Linked DNA regions of Homo sapiens. The protein of the gene in region 2 interacts with the protein of the main gene of each other region in a biochemical or structural test. Each region holds a gene or a part of one and is shown on either strand. Other genes may lie near its edges.

The links.
Region 1: the proteins of SH3PXD2A (region 2) and SOS1 interact in a biophysical measurement, tested with the Homo sapiens proteins (one study listed by IntAct).
Region 3: the proteins of SH3PXD2A (region 2) and AFAP1L2 form a complex in vitro, tested with the Homo sapiens proteins (one study listed by BioGRID).

What each region holds. Positions count from the first base shown.
Region 1 is NC_000002.12:38,980,257-38,985,919, reverse strand, and holds the end of SOS1 (son of sevenless homolog 1), read left to right. Parts: coding exon 1-96; 3' UTR 97-556; coding exon of another isoform or gene 557-610; 3' UTR 611-4,371; downstream 4,372-5,663.
Region 2 is NC_000010.11:103,851,416-103,860,449, forward strand, and holds the start of SH3PXD2A (SH3 and PX domain-containing protein 2A), read right to left. Parts: upstream 4,162-9,034; 5' UTR 3,852-4,161; coding exon 3,780-3,851; intron 1-3,779. UniProt on the Homo sapiens protein: Adapter protein involved in invadopodia and podosome formation, extracellular matrix degradation and invasiveness of some cancer cells. Binds matrix metalloproteinases (ADAMs), NADPH oxidases (NOXs) and phosphoinositides.
Region 3 is NC_000010.11:114,309,678-114,318,337, reverse strand, and holds part of AFAP1L2 (actin filament-associated protein 1-like 2), read left to right. Parts: intron 1-2,572; coding exon 2,573-2,778; intron 2,779-4,287; coding exon 4,288-4,467; intron 4,468-7,894; coding exon 7,895-7,984; intron 7,985-8,660. UniProt on the Homo sapiens protein: May play a role in a signaling cascade by enhancing the kinase activity of SRC. Contributes to SRC-regulated transcription activation.

The DNA.
Region 1 (5,663 bases), on a different chromosome or scaffold from region 2:
CCTAAACTCCCTCCAAAAACTTACAAAAGGGAGCACACACACCCATCCATGCACAGAGATGGACCACCACTGTTGGAGAATGCCCATTCTTCCTGAGTTCCTCTGTACTGGGATGTATATTTTCCTAGCCCCAAATCCATTGCTGGCAATGGATGCACTGAATGTGCCAGCACTGAGGAGTTAAAATGAGAACTCCAAACACTAACGACTCTTCTTCAAGATGCAGTATAAGACAATGAATTTTAACCTAGATGTAATTATACAATGGAAATGGTATTCCAGTTTAGAATATGGAAAGACCGACCTAGAGGAATTGGACAACTGATTGCACCTGAAAATCATAAAGGGACTTTTTCTGGCCAATAGGCAGGAGTCCTCTTTTTGTGAAGTGATCTTTTGTGAAGTGATCATTAAAGGGATGGAAAACACAGTCTAGTGTCCAGCAGGCCCACATGACAGTTTTTGTAATTCAAATTATGCACTTTTAAAAAAAAAAACTTAAACAGGGATCTTAATATCTTCCTTTGTTTTCCTTTGCTTTACTCTTCTACTTTAGAATATTTTCTTAAAAATCACTCAAAGGACTGTGAGGAAAGGCTGTGGTACCTGACCTTGTTGAAATCAAGGCCCGGCACTGTACTACAGGCCTGTTTACAGATTATTACGGTGAACTGAATGGGTACCGAGGCTTCACCAAAGAGGTACTTTTTTGTTGTTGTTGTTGTTTTAGGAATAATTGTACCAATTTTAAGAGCATTCCCCCCACCTGTCCCCACACACCCAAACAAAATGTGGTGGTGTTGCCTTCAAAAAAGAGAAGTTTTGTGTCATTAACATGACAGAAGAACTTTTTAAAAAAAAATAACTGTCAACTATTCTATTTGCATTTAGGAGACTGTTCATCTATGCTAGATTGTCATTTTCCCTCCTTCTCCCACAGAAGTTTACTGGTAGTCCATGTCATGGCTCGTAGCTATCCCTCTAACCATACCATGGAAATGCAGGCACCCAATGTGAAAAGGAGCACTTGCTGGGCATCACTGACACCGCTCATGTTTTACACATAGTTGAGTAATCAGCATATCTAGAATTATCTTGCATTGCCTAAATCATATGTATATAGTGAATGTTATATAATATACCTGGCAGGTCTGTTTTAATTTAATTGAATAAAGATACAAATACTTTGTTTGGCTGGCATATATTAAATTATTATATGAAGAAAATGGTTGATTCTTATTTCTTTTAGTTGAAAAACACACAAAAACACTAAACATAAAAGCACGTTTTGTGGTACGCCTTGGTTTCTAGTTCTGGATATATGTATTAATCTTAAAGAATGATCTAAAGTCACAGCTTGGCATATAGGAAGATACTTGGTTAGAATAGGATGGGTATCTTTTAAGCAGAACTTTGTAAGTAAGTTTTAAGTTCCTAAGCAACAAGTATACAGTTTGTTAAGGTTTATATTGAACATTCTACCTTGCTTGAGGTTTTCTGCTTTATCAAAACTATTCATAATAGAACATCTACCTGCATCATTACTATCATAATATGGATTATTCATAAAGCGTATGTACTGTTCTTCTGAGTCTAACAAATACTGTGACTGAAATGCATGCACCTTGTTGAAGAGAAAACATTTTATTAATCTCCACTATAATGTCTGTGAAATGTGCAGTATTCCATCCTTAGAGAGTTTATCTGGTTCATCAGCATCTGCATGTATCCTCTGAATAATGAAGCAACATTTCAGCAATTCTGTTAACCACACCATTAGAGACATTTTTAGAAGTGCTGCAACATGGTGGGAACCTAGTACTTTAATAATTTCCTATGATATTTATTAGAGCATAAAATGTACATCACGATAGTACAGTATGTAGTCCTTTAAGACCAGAAGGTATGTTAACTGCACCATCATTAAGCAGTCTATCCTATTTTCTTATTTATTTGTTAGAATTGAATCCTTTCTCAATATCTGTACCATTCCTATGATGGTAGCCATTCTTCTCTTTATAAAATATTTCCTCTTTGAAAAGCGTCCTAAAACATTAATTTCAAATCCCCTCTTGGATGCAAAGTGTCCCTAAGACCATCCATTCAACAGTATTTATGTGAGCCAACTTACTAGAGCCGCTACAACTAATCATGATAGACAGTCCAGAATCTCCCTGGACTTTATACTGGGCCAGCCTCATTGTCCCTAAGATTTCTCTTTTTATGTCTCATGGATTACTTCTCTTTTTAATTGCCCCAGGCACATTCCAAATGAGAACCTGGTAAAAGTCACATTGGACCCCCTTCAGTATGTCTTCGGCTAATGTGTTAGCCTTCAATAAGGTGATAACCCCTTTTCAACCTATCTAGTCTATAAAGAGGAAAAATTCAGATTTGGAGTTCTAATCCTATTTCTCCCAAAGGGAACTATTCTTCTACCCCATGGTTCTAGGAGACCACTTCACTGTGCAACAGTTTTACATGCATTGTGGATGGAGGATATTTTTATTCTGAACTGTTACATTTAGGTAAAAATATTTTCTGCAGTGGTAACTGATTAGAAAAATGCCAATTGGATGCCCTTAGGTGGAGGTGAGAAAATGGCATCCTTGCCTTCTTCTCAATATGAAACATTAACTAGTTGACAAATTTATCCTTGTAGTAATGAAAATCTATTTAATCAGGGACCAGAAATGGCTGAGGAGATAAATGCATCATTACAAAATTCTGCTTTTGAATCCTGGACATTACAAGGGGGTAAATGCAGCATGACTTTTTGTTAACCACATTCCAAAATGTGGAACATTTCTTTTAGAAATGAAAATATTTCAAGGCTGATGTATTTTAAGACTACACATTATCAGGAAACATACATTGAGAGTTCGCTTAATTAAAGGTTGTTGGGCATCAAATTATGTTTAGTAGGTTACTATTCTCTAACAACTCAAGGATGCTTTAATGGATCTGAATTTGACAAAGAGCATGCCACACTAATACTACAGTCAACAACAGCCCAGAGAACAATTACTATGTCAGCTGGAGGCTATATTATGATTCTAAATTCTTAAAGGTTTTTTTCCCTCCATAAATCAAAAATTACCTTATGTAAACCAAAAATTAGTTGGTATTTATGGTCATGATCTTAATTCTCAAGTTTAGCTTAATCTTGTATTTCATTGTTTGTCTTCTAATATGACAGCTTAAATTCAGATTTTTAAGTGACTCAGCAAAATAGGAGGAGTGTCCCAATTTATTAGTGTTGTACATATTGAAGAAAACCTTTTTGTTCCTTCAGATTTAGAAAGAAACAGTTTAACCATTTATTTCTTGGTATTCTGCTGCTGTGAATAGGTTTACTTATTCTTTTAACATATATTGTGTGACTACGCAAGTATAGGTCCTGTTGTATTGCATTAATCTTTACCAGTAACTAAACATCACAAGGTTAATATTGGTTTGGCTGAAAGAATTATGCAGTAAAGTTATTTATAAGGGAACATGATGACTTTATTCAATATTTTTCTTCTTTGAAACATCTCATTACTAACTTTTAAGATTATTTCATAATCCCTTATACATGAGCCAATGAAATATTTTGAGCTCTACTTAAGAAGCATGAAGTCTATATTATAAATCTAAACAACAAAAGCACTTGTAACTTGTTTAGTAAATTCCATGCCTTATTTTCCATTTTTGACACCGTAAAGTGCATTTTCTGTCGACTGTGAGCAAATTTCCCTTTTGCCTTTAATGAAAATAGTGCATTAAGTAGCCAATTGCTGCAGAATTATAAAGCAAATTAGCTAACAGTGGGTCACATTGGACTACCACTCAAAGAAACAAGATGCATAACAGATGATGGAAGGTACATGTGGTGTGGCTTAGGGAGAGCGCACCTGTGCCAGATGCATGCCACTTTCAGTAGCTGCCAAATGTGCCTTTAATTAAGAACATCTCTAATTTTTTTCTTCAGATCAAGTCAGCATTTGGGGTCGGGATTTGGGCAGGGAACTTTGGGGTGCAAATATCTGGTGAAACCACCAGAGAATTTGTTTGTCAAAGTGACATGTATAATTTTAGTTGAGACGTGTTTGTGTATATATGTGTATTTGCCTTTGTTTAGTAGCACGGTTATTTGCTAAAATAATTGTCAAAAAATTGCTCTGTCGGTCGGTCTTTGATGTAAGAACAAAGTGTGGTCTATACATCTAATATGGCCTTTGTACCTAACCATGTTCATAGGTAATCTTTGTACTCTGTGTGCAGCAGTATTTGGTTTGCATTTAAAGTGAAAATAACGGCTGTTATTTTTCTGGCATTACTAAGATAAACTGAAAAATAATAAAGAAAAATGCCTTACATAGCCCACAAGTGTATTATTTTTGCATGTATTTATTTTAGAGGGCAGTATTTTTGAAATCATTAGTGATTCTCATTTAGCTCATATATGCCATATAGAAATATTTTGCATTTTTATTGTGGTCTTTCTTTGGAGGCACTTTTTTCCTGTATCAAGTTATAAAAGGATAAAAGAAGTTCCACATTTCCTCTGTGTCAAATCTGCTGATTGATTGTAGTGAGTGGGAGGCCTCTGGGATGAAAACTAGTAATTTAAAGTGACCTTGAGTGTCACCTGGATGAAGTTTCAGAGTGCTAAGGCATTTGTATTCCATAAAAGAAGTTTTGAGATATCACGTTCCCTGACAGGCAGCTTTTGCTGAGATCTGCTGGAATGAGGTAGCCTGACCTTTAGCAATTCTTTTTCTAGGCTTGGCATGAAAATGTGAGTTTAGGGTTGTAACTAAAGAATGATGCAAATGTACCGTCATTCAGTGTGAACTATAGGATGTAAAAATTGATGAATCCTTAGAGAGCCAATCCCCTGATTTAAAAATTAAGGTAGATGAGGCCTAGAGAAATGAGATGACTTAGCCAATATCATGTGGCAGTCCAAGCATGAATTATCGAGTATATTCTAGGTAATAAATTTAATAGTTATAGGACAATAATGTTTTTGTTAAACTTGATTCTGAATTTTCTCTTGAATTATCACTTATTCTGAGCTTTAACCCAGTGATTTACTTTTTAACTTATTTTAATCCTCTTAGGTCATCGCAGATTAGTCTGTTTGGTACAGTCCATAGTTAAGCCTGCCTTTTTGCTGATAGCTGCACATGGTGTCCAGAGGGAAGGATGGCTTCAATACAGAGTACAATTCCAAAAAAGCAGTTTATGGCCATTCTAACATTTTAGGACTCTTGATTCTTACTGGAGGCAAGAAAAACTGTAGCCCACTTAACAGCTAATTTCTCTACCTCAGTAACTCATCAAGAAAAGGAAGAATCAATGTGATAGGAACAAGCAGGTGCTTTGGAATCATGTCTTTGCAGAAGTTAGTTATTTAATCTGTTTCTCATCAATACAAGGAGGTTAACAGATGTACTGTTTGAGGCTATTATGAGGTTTAAAGGTAATATGTGTAAAGCACATGCCTTTCACAGAGTAGGTGCTTAGTAAATGCTAACTAAAGTTACGAGGGATGCATTGTCAAAGTTTACTGGCTTTTAGGTATCTTCTAAGAGGTTGGTTGCTTATTCTGAAGCCCTCATAATTTGATTCTTTATGATTTCCTTTGCTGTTTATCATCACTTAAATTAGTTCTG
Region 2 (9,034 bases):
ACAGTGAGGCAGTCCTAAAGACAACCCTGTACTGCTCTGTCACCATGGAACAGGGCTGAGCCTGGCCTTCCTGCCCGGATTCTAATTGAAGAGAAGGGCCCCACCTTATATCCACATCCTCCTTTGGAGCTAACCTGACCTGCATTGCCCTAGCTCTGCCCTGTGCCAGCTGCGAGACCCTAAGCAAGTTGGTGAATTGCTCCAAGTTGCAGTTAATTCATCTGTAAAACAGAATCCAAAAACCTACCCCACATTAGGGTACATTCAATGACCTGCAGGAATCACACGAAAACACGAGTGTTAAGTATGTTTCACCATCGATGGTAACTGCTAAACTGGCTATTATTTGCATTCCCCAAAGAGTCCTGCAGAGGATCAGAACATTCATGATTGGTATTTGTCTGAAATAAACAATCAGGAAATAAAACAACTGTGAAAGTGCAATACCTCCCAAATCCAAATAGATACAATTTCTTGTTTGTTTTAGATAAACGAGCTTTTCTCTACCACATGAATTGATATATACCTATACCTGCCTGTGAGCACAAAGAACCCGGTGGACCTGAATTCAAATCTTTACTGAAAAACTTTCAAACGAAGGAATCTGCATTCTGCATCCAGCATCATCAGGACCATTTTCAAGACAAGCGGTCAGAGGCCAAAGCCAGTTTACCTAGGGTCTCCCCAGGCACAGCTCAGAAAGCCAGGAAAGGAGCCTAGCTTCATGCCAGGGAGCCTGACCTTAGTAGCAGCTGCCTGCCCTTCTCAACCCCACCCCAAGCAGGGGCCTGGCAGAGAAGAAGGAAGCCAGGGCTGAGTGCCATCCCCATGATGGAAGCTACTTGCGTGCCTTCATGAACTGACCGAAAGCACAGGACCCTTCGTGTTCAGGCAGCTCCCCCTCCCCGTGGGGATGAGCAAACCCTTTGCAGAATGTCCTGAGAGAACCTTTGCAGTGTGTTCCCAGCACTCTGGAGCCAGCAGAGCTCCTCCTGCGTGGGCCCCAGGCCTCTCATCGGCTAGCTCTGGCTAACACGCACATCCCGTAAAACCTCTCTGCTCTGCAATTTACCAAACCACAGACTCAGAATTCACCATCAGCAGAGGAAAGGCTGGAAGGAGGCTTGCTCCTCCAGTGTAGAGGGTTTCCAGAACACAGGCAATGGGTGCAGCACGTCCTGCCAGCTGACCACACCAGAGGGCCTTACTCACAACACTTGAGCTTTTGGTGTGTGGTATTCACCGTGCAAGGGCCAGGAGAGGAAGAGGCTGCAGCCTCCCCAAACCCGCTCCTCCTGCCCCTGTCTGTCCCACCAGGCCCTTTCTATTGCTTTCTTTCCCCCTTTCAATTATTGGATATGCTTATGTTATGTATTAATATATACAATGCCCCAAATGGGTAGAAACTTTTTGACCACCAGTTATTTGTCCTCTTAGCCAAACCCAACTGGACTTAGGGTACATGCAATGAAAAAAACCCAGCTGTGAGCAGCTGTGTTGCAAGTTACTTTACCCAATCTGGCTCTCCATTTCCTCATCTGTAAAATGAAGGAGTTGAGCCAGATGAGTCTTCGGGTCTCTGCCCGTTCCACAATTCCACAACATGTAACACTTTCTCCTCTCAGTGTTTTCCAGAACTCTAGTTCAGAACTCTGCATGGCCCCATCTGTTCAGTGACATCACTCCCTGCCCCCCCAAACATAATGTCATCGATTCTTACTCGGGAAGCGGAGATGTCCCGGGAAACACTTTGTCTGTAAAAAGGAAGGAAATGATCATTTCGAGGGAACTGGACAGGACTTCTTTTGTGTTTTTCACATAGAACAAGTTATTATCAATCTTAAAACCCAAAATCTTTCTTCCTTTTTGCCAGACCATTAATAGCTGCTTTTCAAAAATACTTTCTTAGTCAGAATCTCACCAATAATAAGCTACCATTTAATAAGAGCTTACTGCGTGCCAGGAACTGGGCTAAGTGCTTTACATAGATGATCTCATTTAATTCTCCCAACAAGTACATACTATTATTATCCTTACTTGAAATTGAGTAAACTGAGGCTGGGGGAGGTTTAAATAACTTGCCAAGGTGGCACAGCTAGTTACTGGCTGCATGCCAGGCTTTGAGCAAGACCGTCTAACTTCAGAACCCCAGCACGCAATCTTGCCTTTCAATCCTGTCTGCAGTGGGCCCCGGTTCTAGTTTGTTACCAGTGTGTCCTGCATCTGCAACCTTGGGCACCATCGGTGGGAGCTGAAATGTGATGTTTCATTTAAAATCCAGAGTTGGAAACGCACCTGCCTGGGTCTCAGAGCAGAGTGCCATCTGTTGAATGCAGTGCCAAGCTCAGCTGAGGACTACAAATGAGAACCCTTAAAACTTAGCCTGCAACATTTGAGAAAAATAAACCCTGGGATATACAAAGGGACATCTGTCCACAGAGCAGGTTGACCACCTGGTGACCCAAGCCCTCCAAAAAGAGCTTTCTTGTAACAGCAGCAGAAAATGCTTGCTGGACCAGATGACACAAAAGAAACAACTCTCTAAGGGTGTCAGGGACTGGACCCGACAGGCACCCACCTCCCTGCCTAGTCAACCTGCCTCCACATTTACCTCCTCCCCATATGAGCCCAGCCGCATTTGCTCAGCTGTAAAGAAACTCAAAGTTCAGAGCTACACTGGTGACAAAGGCAAAAAGAGTAGCCCGAGGCTGACATTGCCACAAACCCCAGTCCCTTTGCAACAGTGGAAGAAAAGGCACTTCAGAGATCAATGTACAATCCAGGGCAGCAACCAGCGCCTGTTTTAACTGTTAAGATTAATGCTTTGAGCACTGGAACTGCTCCTCTAAATACCCAATTTGCAAATAACATGCAGTCCTCTGTGCTTGGGTCTCTTCTATCTCAAGTACAGGAGCACAGACGCTCAGAGGGGTCAAGGACACCGTGTTTACTTCCTAAGGTGTGAGGGATGGGAAGACAGGACCGGCTGAGATGAAAGGGGAACTGTCACATAGGCTCTGGAGCTGCCCCAGTCAACCTTAACCCCTTCTCATTAAAGTTTGGGGGAGGAAGGGGGAGGGGCGGTTCCTCGGAGACCACAGCAAACATTCGCCTCCTCGTGTCTGGAGATGGAGCATCACTTAAGAGGAAATGAACCCGGTTAAGGGTCACGTCCAGAGGAGGGATAAAAGGAAAAGCCACAATTCTCCTCACACCGACGGACACAATGGCTTTATGAGGGAAATCAAAGCTTAGCGCGGAGGGTGGAGGTTGGGCAAGGGGGCGGCGGCTTCCTTCTGCCCCCAGCCCCAGGCCTAGGAAGGCAGAGACAGAGCTGGCGTGGGAGGCAGGGCGCGAGGCTTCCTTCTCCAGGGCGAGCTCTGAAAGCATCTCGGGCTGTGTGAGCGTGAGCGCCCAGGGCCCCTGGGGAGGGCCGAGGAGATGCGCTTTCCCGACGGGGCTGCTCTGTGAGGGGTTGACGAAAGCTCCCCCCACCATCCATCAAAGGCGGACAGATGACTTCACCGTTGTAACAGACAAGGGCAGCCACTTGCCAATTCCAATGCCAAAAAAAGAAACCGGGGGGGCGGGGGTGCGAAGGAGGAAGGACAGAAGAGGCTTCCCTGGAGATCACAGCCCTGCGAAGAAACTCCACGGCTGCTGGCTGCCCAGTGGGCGCTTAGCTTCGCGACCTCACAGCTGGGAGGGGCAAGGGGCCATCCGGGGCCCTCCCGGGACCTCGGGCCACCCCCAGCAGGGTCGGCGGGGGCTGTACTCACGTAGTGCTTGGAGGGGTTCCTCCGCTTCTCCACGTCCACCACGGTGGCATCCTGCACGCAGTAGGCGAGCATCTTCCCCCACAAAGCGAGTGGCGCCCCCGGCGGCGTCACCTTCTCATCCCGGCCGGGCTCCGGCTCCTTCTCCAGCTGCCGGGGTCCCGGGGCCGCCCGCCACCCCGGCCCGGCGCGCCGAACGCTGCCCGGACTCCCGGCGCCCACAGGTCCGGCCCAGGGACGGGGGAGGGTCCCGGAGGGCGCGCGGGCTCCGTGCGCCCCGGGGGACTCCCCGCCGGCCTGCCGCGCGCCCCTTCACTCCCGCGCGGCCGCCGCGCTGCGCTCGCCCGCTCGCTCTCTCCGCCGCCCGGTGGGTCCGGCGGGAACTGGCGGAGCAGAGGAGGGGCGGGGGTGTGTCCCGTCGGCGAGGGGACGGGGCGGGGGCCCCGGAGCCTGCTGTCAGCGTCCTGGGGAGGGGCCGGCGGCTCCCCTTCGCCGCTCTCCGGCTCGGGCTCCGGGGGGATCGGCGCTGGCGGAGGCTGTGGGCGCAGGAGGCGGAGGCAGGGCCTGGCAGGCAGGGAAGGGAAGGGAGGGAGGGGAGAGAGGGGAAGCGCGCGGGGAGGGGCTCCGGGCCGGGGGAGGGGCTCGGGGCGACGGGGAGGGGGCTGCAGCCCGGCCCCAGTGGCAGGGGCGGGCCGACGAGCCCCCACCCGAGCCCAGCGCGCAGCCAGCGGCCTGGCGCAGCACCGGGCTAGTTCGCTAGGCACAAAAACTCAGGGTGGCTTCGGGGGGAGAGGGAGCGGGGAAAGTGAGCCCCGCGCGCCCCCATCCTGGCTTTCCGCCTCGGAGCGGATTTGTGCCTTTTTGTCCCCACTTTTATGTCCCCCTACAACTTCCACCCCCAGATCTCTTTAATGAGAAGTAGTTTATTACCCGGCTGTTACTGCCCAGGCCCCCGAGGAGGAGATGGGAATGGGGAAAAGGCCAGCTTTAAATCCTTCAAGCCAGAGCCTCTTTGGACGAACCACCTGACCCTCTGCAGGTCATAAAGGGTGAATTCTCCCCGGAAAAGTGATCGATTCGTTGCCTGAGTCGTCCATCGATCTGGGCTTGTGTAACTACCCTGTGCATCATTTACCAATGACAACGTTACAGACTCTGCATAACACCACTGCCTTAAGCCCAGGGCTCCCCTGGGGACCCTCCCCAAGCTGGCGACAGGGAAAGGAGCATACAATGGTGGGAAAACCCACCCGGTTGGAGGCCAGCTCACCGTGAGCCCCAGGCTCTGGCATTCTCACCCCTCCCTCTAGTCTGGAAAACCCACTTTCCAAGCCACTTGTCCGTGGTCCCTGGACTTGGAGCACAGTTACTACTTAATTCAATGTAGCTTCCCCCCTTCTAGTTCAACATTTTTTTCCCATTCTGCTTTCAAACATTTAAAGGGTAGTGTTTTCACAACTACTCCAGTTGTTACACAATCACAATAAAGCTTTGTGACTGTGGACCAATGTGAAACATCTGAAAAGAGGACAAATAATTTTGTGACCTAATTGCATTAATACTTTCTTCTGCGCGTTCTCTAGACTGTCAGAACCCAGGCACAGATCTAAGGCTTTATTTATTCACATATTTGCTCCATACAGAGTAACCCACTATTCCTCCAACCTTCCTGGGGAAGGGCGCTAGGACACCAAACGATGGCACGGGACAAAGAAAAAAAAAGATGGATGGGCCTAGGGGGCTCAGACTGTGAGAGATCTTGGCACCAGGCCAGAGCTTCTTGGTCAGAGAAGATGACAGAAAACCTTTGTGAATGTTGGAGCAGGAGTCCTGGGGGAAGGTGCACCTGGTAATGTTGCTCAGCTGATGGGAAAATGGGAGGACAGGGCACTACCTCCATGAGCAAGGATTATTCCCTGAAGGGATGAGAGGTAGACCTGGAACGGGCCCTCCATATTGAGCTCCCGAACTTGGGAGGGTGCTGGCCAGCTCCAGGTCCTCTCTGATGATGGATCAAGACAGCCTGTGAGTTTGTGAGGAAGAGATTCATCATGGCTCTCGGATAACTCGTCTTCTGTGGATGGCAAAGTCTTCTGGAAGTGCTAATAAAACCTGAGAAGCCACCAGCGAGGGGAGCTGGTGTTTAGCTGTTGTGGGGGGAAGAAGAGGAGGGGGTTTAGTTTGATTTGGGTCCCCTTGTGAATCAAAGCAGTCAGCTCATCTAAAACAGCACTAGTGGTTTCCTTATTACCCTTCTTTCGGACCCAGATCCACAATGAACACACCAAGCACAATAAATTTGTAGGAGAGAGGGCCCAGTTCTTCCCCACTTCCTAGCGGCCTACAAAGTGGTAGCCTTTCTCCTGCCTAAAAGACTCCCTGCAACTTGACATTTTATAAATTCAGGCCTTTAAGCCTGACTTGAGCATACTCCCAACTTCCCCCTTTGTTCCGTAATTACCTTTATTGGAGGGAGCAACTGAGTGCTCCCCACTCAACCCCATGGTGCCAAGATCTGGGCAGAAGTTATTTCTACCTGTGGGAGAAAAATGTCTTTTCTGTACTGGGGCCGTATGTCCAAGGGGATTTAAGTATGAAATGGTGCAGGCTATCTCTTCTCTGGGTACATTTCAACCTCATGCAGATTTATTTCCCACAGTGCCTTGGGAATTCCTTTCTGTTCAATACACATTTATTGAATGCCTCACATGTGCCTGGCAATCCCCCAAAAATGACAGAGACTGGGGGAAGTTTCCTTGGAAACAAGGACTGTGCATCATTCATTAAATACCCCAACTATGCGTGGCACACAGTAGGTATATAGGATGGCCTGTGTTGAAAACATCTGCTCAAAGAGCTAGTGCTAGAAAGGATTAGAGAAACCCCTATTTTGCCACCTCCGCCCATGAACTGGAGATGACTCCAACCTAAGGACATTGTGTGAGTTAAAAATGACAAAATATAATTGCAAATTTTTTTTTAAGTTTAGGATAAGTAAGGGAAAGAGAAGCCAACATAAAGATGCAAACTGATACCTGAAAATCTGATTTTCGAAAACAGGTAATTGTAGAATGCTTAGAATCAAAGAACTTTCCAACTAGAAGGGACAAGAGAGGTTATTTATTTCTCTTATTTTACAGAGGAAGAAACCAAGGCCAAGAAAAACTAAGCAAGTTGCTTGATGCCACATAGCCAGTTAGTCCAAAGCCCGCTGTCTTTCCCCTCCACATTTATGTGCCTATACTAGGGCAAGAAGAGCTTGTTTAAAGGGCACACTTAGCACACCTGCAGGTCTAGAATGTTGCATTCACTCAAACCCTGGAGTCCCTGGTTCCAGTTCTCCATTCACACAAGCATATGAACTCGTGATGCCTGGACTTCCCAATAAAGAGGACTGTACAATCCTCTAGAGCAGAGGCCGTGTGTGTCTCCATGGTCCTCTGTGTACGTGCAAATTCCATCAGCTCCCCTAAAGCAGAACCCGCCCTACCTCCTCTCCCATGTAGGGTCTTTGTGACCACCCCCAAAGAAGACAACATGCAGGAAAGTACTGGAAACCACAGTGGGCTATATGAAAGCACAAGAGAACCTTCTCTTCCTCTTCAGAAATCGAATGACAATTGCTAATCATACATTTGTTTACTAATCATACATCACCCTATGACAGCTCAGCCTTCACTGTATTGAACCTTATTTATATCTTTTATTGTTATTTAACTTTCCTGTGCTTTAGGTTGTGCCTTCTAAACCAGTAAGAAGCCTTTGAAGGCCTTGAGGACCATGAACTTAGACATGGACACCACCCTTTCCCTCCCCACCCCCATCATCCAGCACCTCTGTCACCTGCCACACACACCTGCCCACCCAGCGCAGAGCTTTATACATGCCAGGCCCTCAATAAATGGTTGTCTTTTTAAATTACTGGGATCTCAGCAGATATTTGTAGATAATGCTGGGGCTAAGTAATGCCTAAGAAGAAGAAGAATTGGAGTCTCAGAGCAGGAATTACCCAACCTGGGTTCTACTCCTGGCTTAACCACAAACCAGCCTGTGACCTTGAAGTTCTTTCCCACGTCTGGGTCTCTGGTGCTCTTTCTGGCCCTTTCCATGCTGTACAGTGGTGGATAACTTACATAAACTGAGGTCTAGCAAGACTCTCCCCGAGTTGTGTAAATTTGAGTGAAATTTGGGGCCCTCTTCTGGCCAAAGTGGTTTTAGCACTTTTACCTCCTGCCACAGGGACAGGCAGGAGGGCCTGGGACGAATAACCTGCCCTTCTACAGACTGTAAGCGGTCCAGCGCTCATGCTTCTGTCTCTGCTTCTTCTCATCCTCCTCCTCCTTTTTCTTCTCCCCCACTCCCTTTCTCTCTCAAATCAGCCCTGATATATTTATTGACTTATGTTTGGGGAGTGTCTTGAGGACGGTCCCACCGGAGTGTGGAGCAGACAGCAAGGCCAACTGCCCAGGGAAGTAAATTGCTTGTCAGGCTTCTCCTCTCCTTGCTGGGGAACAGGACCAGGATATGGCCCCAGAACTGCCCTACCACCCAGCCCCACTGTTCACGAATTTTAGCCATACTAACAGGCCCCTCCTGTTGCCAAACTACCAGATGGTGGAAGCCGCCTCCGTCTGACACCCAGCACAGTAAGTTCATCAGCAAAATCTCAACATGCTTCTTTACACGGTCCCTTGAGAGTCTCACTCTCCTGTCTTAGCCTGGATTCCGGTGAGGGTCCGTGTGCAGCAGCAGGTTTTGATAGAACCACTTGAAATTCCAGCCTTAGCAAGTGGTCACGCCCTGGAATACCAGAGGGAAATCCGGGAACTTGCACAGCCAAAGAGGCCAAGGGCATAATTAGATTCACAGAGGAAAACAATATTATTCCATAACTCCAGGCTGCATCCCTAACCCTGACCAGACATCTGGCCCCCAAACTAGTGCATTGTGTTTTAAGACCTTCAGGAACGAGTGTGGGTGGTTTCATACAGTCTATCTCAACAATTGAACACACCTTGACGTGTATTCCTGGCTGGGAGGGGGTTGCCAGCATCATCTGGGTATAAAAGATCAGCCTGTATAGTTCTGTTTTAGTGATAAACCACCACAGATTTTCTTTTTCAAAATCCCCTGGATTTTCCAGAATCCAGCAAACCCTGAGTTGGCCTCTGGAAGACAAAAAGAATAGAAAAGAAAAATACCAGGGGGAATTCAAAGGCAGTTTCTTTAAAAATAGCCTGAAGCCACAAATAACCAAA
Region 3 (8,660 bases), about 10 Mb from region 2:
GTGGGGCAACCCCAGAAGCACAGAACAGTGGAGACTTACCCAAATTCTTCACAGTAAACTCTGTAGCCTCCTCCATTAATTTTTGTTACTGAAGGAAGTATCCCAATGACAGTATATCATTTTTTAAATGTCGCTTATTATACAGATAATGCAATACTGGCAATAAGGAAAAACATTTTTAAATCACCCTGATCCTACTACCCATCAAATCAACTATTTTGAGCTTTTTCTATGTTGCTTGCAGTGCTGATCTGTTTGCATGTATAGTTCTAACTGTGCTTTCTCCCTTATCATACCTTAGGGAGTTTATCCAGCTGCACACTAGTTTTCAGAGTTTTAAATGATTACAGTTGCATGGACATGACTAAGTGGGTAAAATCATGCTTTACTTACCCAGTCCCCTTCTGCTGACTGCTAAACAGCATTTGAATGAATATCCTAATGCATGTAACATTCTTTCCCACTCCCGCCCTTTTTTTTGAGACTGTCTCACTCTGTTGCGCAGGCTGGAGTGCCAGTGGCACGATCTCAGTTCATTGTAACCTTCGCCTCCTGGGCTCAAGCCATCCTCCCACCTCAGCCTCCCAAGTAGCTGGGACTACAGGTGCATACCACCATGCCCAGCTAATTTTTGTATTTTTTTTAGAGATGGGGTTCTGCCATGCTGCCCAGGCTGGTCTTGAACTCCTGAGCTCAAGTGATCCACCTGCCTTGGCCTCCCAGAATGCCAGAATTACAGGTGTGAGCCACCACGCCTGGCCCCTTCTCTTTTTAAAAAACTAGTTTCCTAGGATAAAATACCAGGACTGGGATTATTGGATCAAAGAGTATGGGTGTTTTTTATGGCTCTTGAAACAGGCTGCCAGACTGCTTTCTGAGAAGCCTGTGTTAATTTACGTTGTCACCTATAACGTAAGAGTTCAGGGTTCCATCCTGGGTAATACTGCTATTTTCAGTCTTATTTAATAGGTATAAATTATACACTTTTATATTAAGCCATTAAGAGAAGTAGTGTCACATGGCTTTTAAAGAAAATTGATACTAAAATGTTTAAAATGTTGTTTTTAGAAATATTAAAACACATTTTCACTGGCACTGTTGCTAGAATAACTATTGCAGAGGCCTCATCCCATTTTTCTATATTCTGTTTCAAATGTGCTTCTTAGTAAAATCAAACGTGCTTCTTAGTAAAATCGACAACATTTTATCTAGCTATACAGATAGGAGAAAGGGCTTCTGGATTCTTCTGCCAAGACTTACGGGTCTATGGGCTGGTCCTCTTCTGAAGGGTGTCATGGGAATGAAGGCAGAGTGTCATTCAGCCTGACTCAAGGGGACAGAACAAGGACTGCCATGCGGAAGTCAGGGAAATAGATGCTGAGTCCATTTCCTAACTGACAGGGCTGCCGGGAATGGGAGTATCCAGGGATCAGGAGATAGTGAGCCCTCCGTGGGAAATTTGGGCAGAGCATCAAGGTTATGATAGACAGGATTCCTGTGCCAGGGGTTGGACTGAAATCCTGAGGTTCCCTTTCCTCCATGTCCTGCTTTTCAGGGATAGATGGATGGATGAATAGAGAGAGAGATAGATCAATCAATCGATGGACAGATGAACTGATTGATTTTTCTTCACATGGTTTTTGTTTTGTCCTTGAATAGAGCAGTAGGACTTGGGAACAGAATAGCTCTTGCAGGGTGGTGGGGGCAGAAACTAGAAACTGAGGCAGTTGGGGTATGCGTAGAATCGTGCATGATTTGTGCTCTGATGAGTTTTAGGATTCTTTCAAAACAAAAGAGGAAGGGTTTAAGTTAGACACTAGTAAAAGGAGCTACATTTGTGCCAGGAGGTATTAGGCAGGGAGGGAGAGCAAGCAGTGTCTGTGGAGGGTATGAGTGGAGGTTTGAAGAAGGGCTATGACTGGGAGAGGGTATTTGGGAGTAAGAAGGTGGCCCCTTTCCCCAGAAAGTGTTTCCTGCTGTGGTTTATTTGGACTTTTATTTCTGAGGAGCCACAGCCCCTTCCCCAGATCTAGGACTGAGCCAGGCCCAGCCAGGCCAGCGGCCATCAGAGGCCTGCCTCACATACAGCTCAGGTGGAGCACGGATGGCGTTCTCTTCCTCCTGAGCCCTTGGAATGCCAGAGGCCAGGCCTGGGAGAACCTGGCAACATCCCACCCCACGCCTTTCATCTTTCATTTGAGGAATTAGAGGCCCCGAGTAGGAGAACTGGCCTTGTCAAGAGCAAACAGTTGGTCTGTGGGGCAGTGTCTTCTCAGGGTTTCTGTGGAGTTGGGAGTGACAGGATTTGAGGAAGAAAAGGGAGAGACTTTGGTTTTCAGTTATTTGTGTTTTGTGGCCACAGGCAGCATCCAAGAAGCCTTGCTGAGGGGTTTGGGGGCAGGAAAGCCAGCCCTGGGATCTGGCTGCTGGCTGTGGGGCTGCTTTGAGGGCAGGGAGAGTCGGGGGCTGTGGTCTGGCTGCTGCTGCTCCTGCCTGCTGCCCTCCCCAGCGATGCTGCTTCAGGACTGTCCCCTGCCCCATGGGGCCCTGACCGAGCTGGTCTTCCTTGCAGAGGACGGAGAGGCTGTGAGCAGCTCCTACGAGTCCTACGATGAAGAGGACGGCAGCAAGGGCAAGTCGGCCCCTTACCAGTGGCCCTCGCCGGAGGCCGGCATCGAGCTGATGCGTGACGCCCGCATCTGCGCCTTCCTGTGGCGCAAGAAGTGGCTGGGACAGTGGGCCAAGCAGCTCTGTGTCATCAAGGACAACAGGCTTCTGGTCAGTCTGCCTTACGTCGTCTTGTCCCCCGACTCCTCTCCTTGGGGAAGGGGCAGGGACAGGGAAGGAGGGACAGGATGGTCCCTGACCTCAGAGGTTTCGAGCTTGTTTATGTCAGGAGATTTTAACTTCTCCCTAATCTGAAATTGTATACAGGATTTTGTGTGTATGGATGAATGTACTTTTTCTGAACCAGAAAGGTCTAGTAGTTTCATCAAGTTCTCAAAGGGGGTTGTGACTACCACCGCCTCCCCCATCCCCATCCCATCCTCCTCTTTGTGAGACAGATACATCTTTCTGTCCCCTGGTCCTTTTTCACATCCTGTCCGCTGGAGTCCAGTCAGGCTCCTCCAGCCCAGCCCCAATTCTGGCTACTGTTTTTTGTTGTTGTTTTGTTTTGTTTGTTTGTTGTTGTTTTTGAGACAGAGTCTTGCTCTGTCGCCCAGGCTGCAGTGCAGTGGCGCAATCTTGGCTCACTGCAAGCTCCACCTCCTGGGTTCAAGTGATTCTCCTGCCTCAGCCTCCTGAGTAGCTGGGATTACAGGCGCCCGCCACCACGCCTGGCTAATTTATGTATTTTTAGTAGAGACGGGGTTTCACCATGTTGGTCAGGCTGGTCTCGAACTCCGGACTTTGTGATCTGCCTGCCTCAGCCTCCCAAAGTGCTGGGTTTACAGGCGTGAGCCACTGCGCCCAGCCCTGGCTACTGTTTTTATCTGTGCAGCATGAGAATGCTAGGTATCTTCTCAGAAGCAACAATATTTTGAATTAGTGATTACAAGACCAGACCCAGCAAGGAACCAGACATTACTCTGACAACAGTCCTGTTTCCTGCTATTTTAAATTAAAATTCCCAGTTGCGTGTCCTGATTTGAAATTCCACGGAATTATTATAAACACCTTTTCTTGCCTGGTTACAACAGGCCCTGCTCCGTGCCAATGTTATTTCAAGTAATCCTTTTAAGCAACCCTGTAACCCCATTTTACAAATGGGAAGCCAAGGGATAAAGTATTTTCTCTAGTAGGGGAAGAGTCCTTCCTTTCTTTGTTAATACATCATCTTCCTAACTAGGCAGATAAGAGGCTTAGTTTTTGTGCCTTATGGATCCTTTACTCCAGAAGCCAAGCAAGCAATACAGAGAGGTGGAGAAACAGTGAAAGTCTGTCCACTTTGGAGAACTGAACGGTGAACACAGAGGACGTATTTTAGGCCCTCCAGGCCTGGGGCAAGTTTGAGCCATTTGGATGGCAGCATCCTGGAGCATCCTTGGCTGAGGCCAGTGAGAAGGAGGCTTGAGGGAGAGAGGGACAATCTGATGTGAAGAACAGGAGTTGCTGATATTTGAGGTTAAGGCTCCAGGCCTGCTTCGGGGTGTCCAGCCTCTTAGTCTTGCTGGGTTAAGTCAGGCTCTTGGTGAGTCCTGCAACGTCCAGCGGCCCCTCCTTTGCAGACATCACCTCCGCCCGGCACCCCTGGCAAAGTGGTGTATCTTCTCTCTTTCCTTCCAGTGCTACAAATCCTCCAAGGACCACAGCCCTCAGCTGGACGTGAACCTACTGGGCAGCAGCGTCATTCACAAGGAGAAGCAAGTGCGGAAGAAGGAGCACAAGCTGAAGATCACGCCGATGAATGCCGATGTGATTGTGCTGGGCCTGCAGAGCAAGGACCAGGCTGAGCAGTGGCTCAGGGTGAGGGCGACACCGAGCCACTTGGAGGGGTTCCTAGAGTTGTGGCCCCCAGCTTTTCTAAAGGGATGGATGATAGGGTCAGGGGTAGAGGATTTGTGATCCTTCAAGTTTGCAGGGCTTCCTGTGTTCTAAGTGGTAACGATCTGTCTTCTGCAAATGGGTTACAGCGTGCTGCTGCCAGTTCTGAATCCCCAGTAGCCCGGACTTGGGTGCAGTTGAAATCCATTTCCCTTTTTGCCTTTAGTGAGGCATCCCCCTCCTCCTTATTAAAGAAGAATACATGTCGCTGCCATTTGCCACGTATTTGCCATAGACCCAGGACTATTAGCATCTTTAACCCACGTAACCACACTGGGGATGGCTGGGGAATGTTCATGTCCCCATTTTACAGGAGTGGTGATTAAGGCTCAAAGGATGGAGGTGATGGATCAAAGTCGTCTGCCAAGTGGTGGCAGCATTGGTTCTCAGACCGAGGCCCGTCTACACAGTGCTGTGCCTCCTCCCACCACGAATGCACGTGGCCCACTCTGCCCACGCGTCCCTGGGTGTGATTATGAGGCACTTGGGGAGGGGCTTGCTTGCCTCAGGTGAAAGCTGGGCTTGATGCTTCCAGCGGATGTAAAGTTTGCACCAGGAATGGATCCCCAGTTCCAGAGGGACCTCCAAACCCAGCAGGGACCCTGGTGAGGCCAGTGAGAGCCAGAGCAGCCCTTCCCCTCCTTCCTGCTGCCCCTCCCCTCCTTCCTGCTGCCCCCTCTCCCATCACAACCACTTCAGCCCAGAAGCGTTCTATCCACCCCGCACCCCACCCCACTCCACCTGCCACCCAGCTAAACATAACCACCTTGGCGAGCCTGTCAGAAACAGATCTGGACCGCTGTGGTAAAACAGGACCTCAGTACCCGCCTGAGGCACTGGTCCACCCCTAGGCTGAGTATCCTAGATTTGGAGCAGGCAGGCTGTTTTTGTAAATCCACTAATTGTTTTGGAAATGCCAGGCCTGTCCTAACCAAGCTTCTAGAAGGTGCTGACAGGTATCCCCATCTTTATTGCAAAATCTTCAAGTGGTGAAAGACAGTGGTATGTAGAAAAAGGCCACTGCATAGACAGGTTTGTGGTTTGGCTTCACAGATCTCCATGTAGGGTGGGGTTCCTGAGAGAGCTAACAAGCTCTGAAAGGCCAGCCCTGGGCATTTAAGAGCCAGGGCTCTGAGTTCAAATCCTGGCTTCACCCCTGTTTAGCTGAGTGATTTGGGGCTGGATCCTTTAATGTGCACAAAGTGCTTAGCACTGTGCTTGGTATATACTGAGTGCTCCGTGAAACTTGGATAGTACAGATAAGACCACTGAGGCCCAGAGGGAATGGGGGGCTTGTCCTGGGCTGCAGAGCTGATTAGGACCCAGAGCTCTGGGCTGTTGGTTTCTTACCCCAGTCTCCTGCCTCACCCACTACACACACATACTCATTTGCACACATATATGCACACATGCACATTCATGTATACATTTGTACACACACGGACAAATGCACATGTATGCACATTTGCATACACATTTTTGCTCATGCATGCATTGCGCATGTATATGTACACACACACACACACACACACACACACACACACACACACACACACACTCTGCTCTTGCCCCCAGTTCCCCGCTCTGTTCCTCTGACTGCTCAAATCCACCGATCTTCTCCCTGGCCCCTAGCCTCCCTCCCCAAACTCTCACGCCCTCTTCCTGAGGCCCCTGGCCCCATAGCCTCTGCTGGTGGTTTCAAAGACAAGAACGCTTTCAGCAGGCACAGACTTTCTGTGTCCAGCCTCCACAGAGAGACCCTTCCCCCCAGCTCAGACAAGTGCAGAGGTGGACTTGGCTGGAAATGCCTGCTCTCAGAAGCCGCCCACTCTTGCGCTTTGGCAGTGGGGGCTGGTCCACCTGTCTGATGGGCTCTCCACCTACCTGCATTGGCTTTGTGAAGCCCATCTACCTTCCTTGGACCTCTGTGTCCCAATTCTGCATATCCGCACCCATGCCCAGGGTGAGACAGGTATATGACAGTAAACGGGAGATGCTGACTATGGGACGACGGTCCCAGTAAAGGAAGGCACAAGGCAGGGCTTTTCCCAGGAAGCATGACCCTGCCCCCGCCCCACTCCTGAACTCCTGGCTTAGTGGCACTTTCCCTGGGCAGGGCCATCCGTGTATTTGGCCCAAGCTAATAGGGATGGTAATCCATGTGCCTGCCCTGTGCTGGGTGCTTGACATACAAGCGCTCACAGCTGGCTCGTGGCAAAGGTATTGACCCAGCTTACAGATGCAGTGGCTGAGGCTCAGGCTCAATGTCACACAGGTGCCAACCCTAGTGCCTGTGCTCTTCCTATGACACTGGGTTGCATATTCAGTGTGGACCACAGTCCCGAACTGGAGTTCTTGGGCTCTTCTGATTTGAAACCCATTTCCACAAACTGCTCTAGGCATAGACTGAAAGAGGGGGATCTATGAAATCACTCTAACTAATTCTGCGTTTCCAAAGGGCTTCCAGGTGGGTAGTGTGTTTCTGGTCGCCCTGGGAGTTCCCCCGGCAAGAAGGGAGTGCCCCTGGCTCAGACTGAGGCAATGCTTTCATAGTCAGAGCCACTGCTGACTTTCTGCATCTGCCCCCAGCCCAGGCTCTGTTCCTCTGACTGCCCAAACCCACCTATCCTTTTCCGGACCCAGCCTCCCTTCCCAGAGTCTCACGCCCTCTTCCTGAGACCCCCTGCCCCATAGCCTCTGCTTGGGGTTTCAAAGACAAGAACGCTTTCAGAAGGCACAGCCTTTCTGTGTCCAGCCTTTACAGAGAGACCCTCTTCCTCCACTGGTCAATGAAGCCAGTGAAGAGGCCCCTTCCCAGAGGCGGGCGGGCGGGTGGGTGGCGGCAGGCGAGTCGGGAGAGCCAGAGGGTGGTTGGAACAAGGGAGTTTGCAGGCCTGCTCCTCAGGCAGCGTGGAGACTCCACAGAGAGTTGCATGACCTCTGAAAAGCCAGAGGACTGTCTAGCAAGGCAGTTGTTGATCACGCCTGCAACAGAACAGTAGCCCTGCCTGGAATGGTGGCAGGAAAGGGGCTCGCGGAGCCCTGGGCTGGTGGCTCTGGTCATCTTTGGCCTTTGCTGCCAAGGCCCCCCCTCGCATGCCCATGAACGTGTGGGACCTGCGGAAAGGAGCTAAACAACGAGCCCTCCCCACTGCAGCCTGCCCAGCTGGGTCTGAGGCCACATGCAGGCCTTGGGGCTGGGGTCGGGTGGGTCCTCTTCCTTGGAAATTCATCTTCTCTCTCACCTCCACCCACTCTCCCCTGACCTGCAGGGGCCCTGGCTTCAGCCTGGCTGTGAGTGCTGGCCAGAGGACCTCAGCCTCTGCTGACGGCTTCCCTCTTGCCTCAGGTCATCCAGGAAGTGAGCGGCCTGCCTTCCGAAGGAGCATCTGAAGGAAACCAGTACACCCCGGATGCCCAGCGCTTTAACTGCCAGAAAGTAAGCCTCTGCCCTGCCTGGAGGGAGAGTCCCCTTCCATGTTTTCTCTGTAAAAATTAAAAGTGCAAAATTGGGAGCTTCGTTTTTATATTTCAGTCCAATTAATAAGAAACATACAATGCTTGAGGCCGGGCAGGGTGGGCTCACGCCTGTAAGCCAAGCACTTTGGGAGGCTGAGGCAGGTGGATCACCTGAAGTCAGGGATTTGAGACCAGCCTGGCCAACATGGTGAAACCGTGCCTTTACTAAAAATACAAAAATAGCCAGGCGTGGTGGTGGGCGCCTGTAATCCCAGCTACTCGGGAGCCTGAGGCAGGAGAATCACTTGAACCCAGGAGGCGGAGGTTGCAGTGAGCTGAGATAGCGCCAGTGCACTCCAGCCTGGGTGACAGAGGGAGACTCCATCTCAAAAAAAGAAAAAAGAGAAGAAGAAACATACACTGCTTGGAAAAGAGGAGTAACTCTAGCTTGGCAGGAAAATGGAGGAAACGGATACAGACCTAAAATATTTTCTTGCTTGTAGGTGCCGGGGGTGGGCGAATGGGGAGACAGGGGGAAGCTTTATTGGAACAACAGTCACTTTGGCCTGCATTCTTAAGTAGGGAGATTGATTTTATGAGGCACTTCCTTTCCCCTTATTCCTCAGTAGCGCCTCTGGGCTTGGGGCACTATCTCA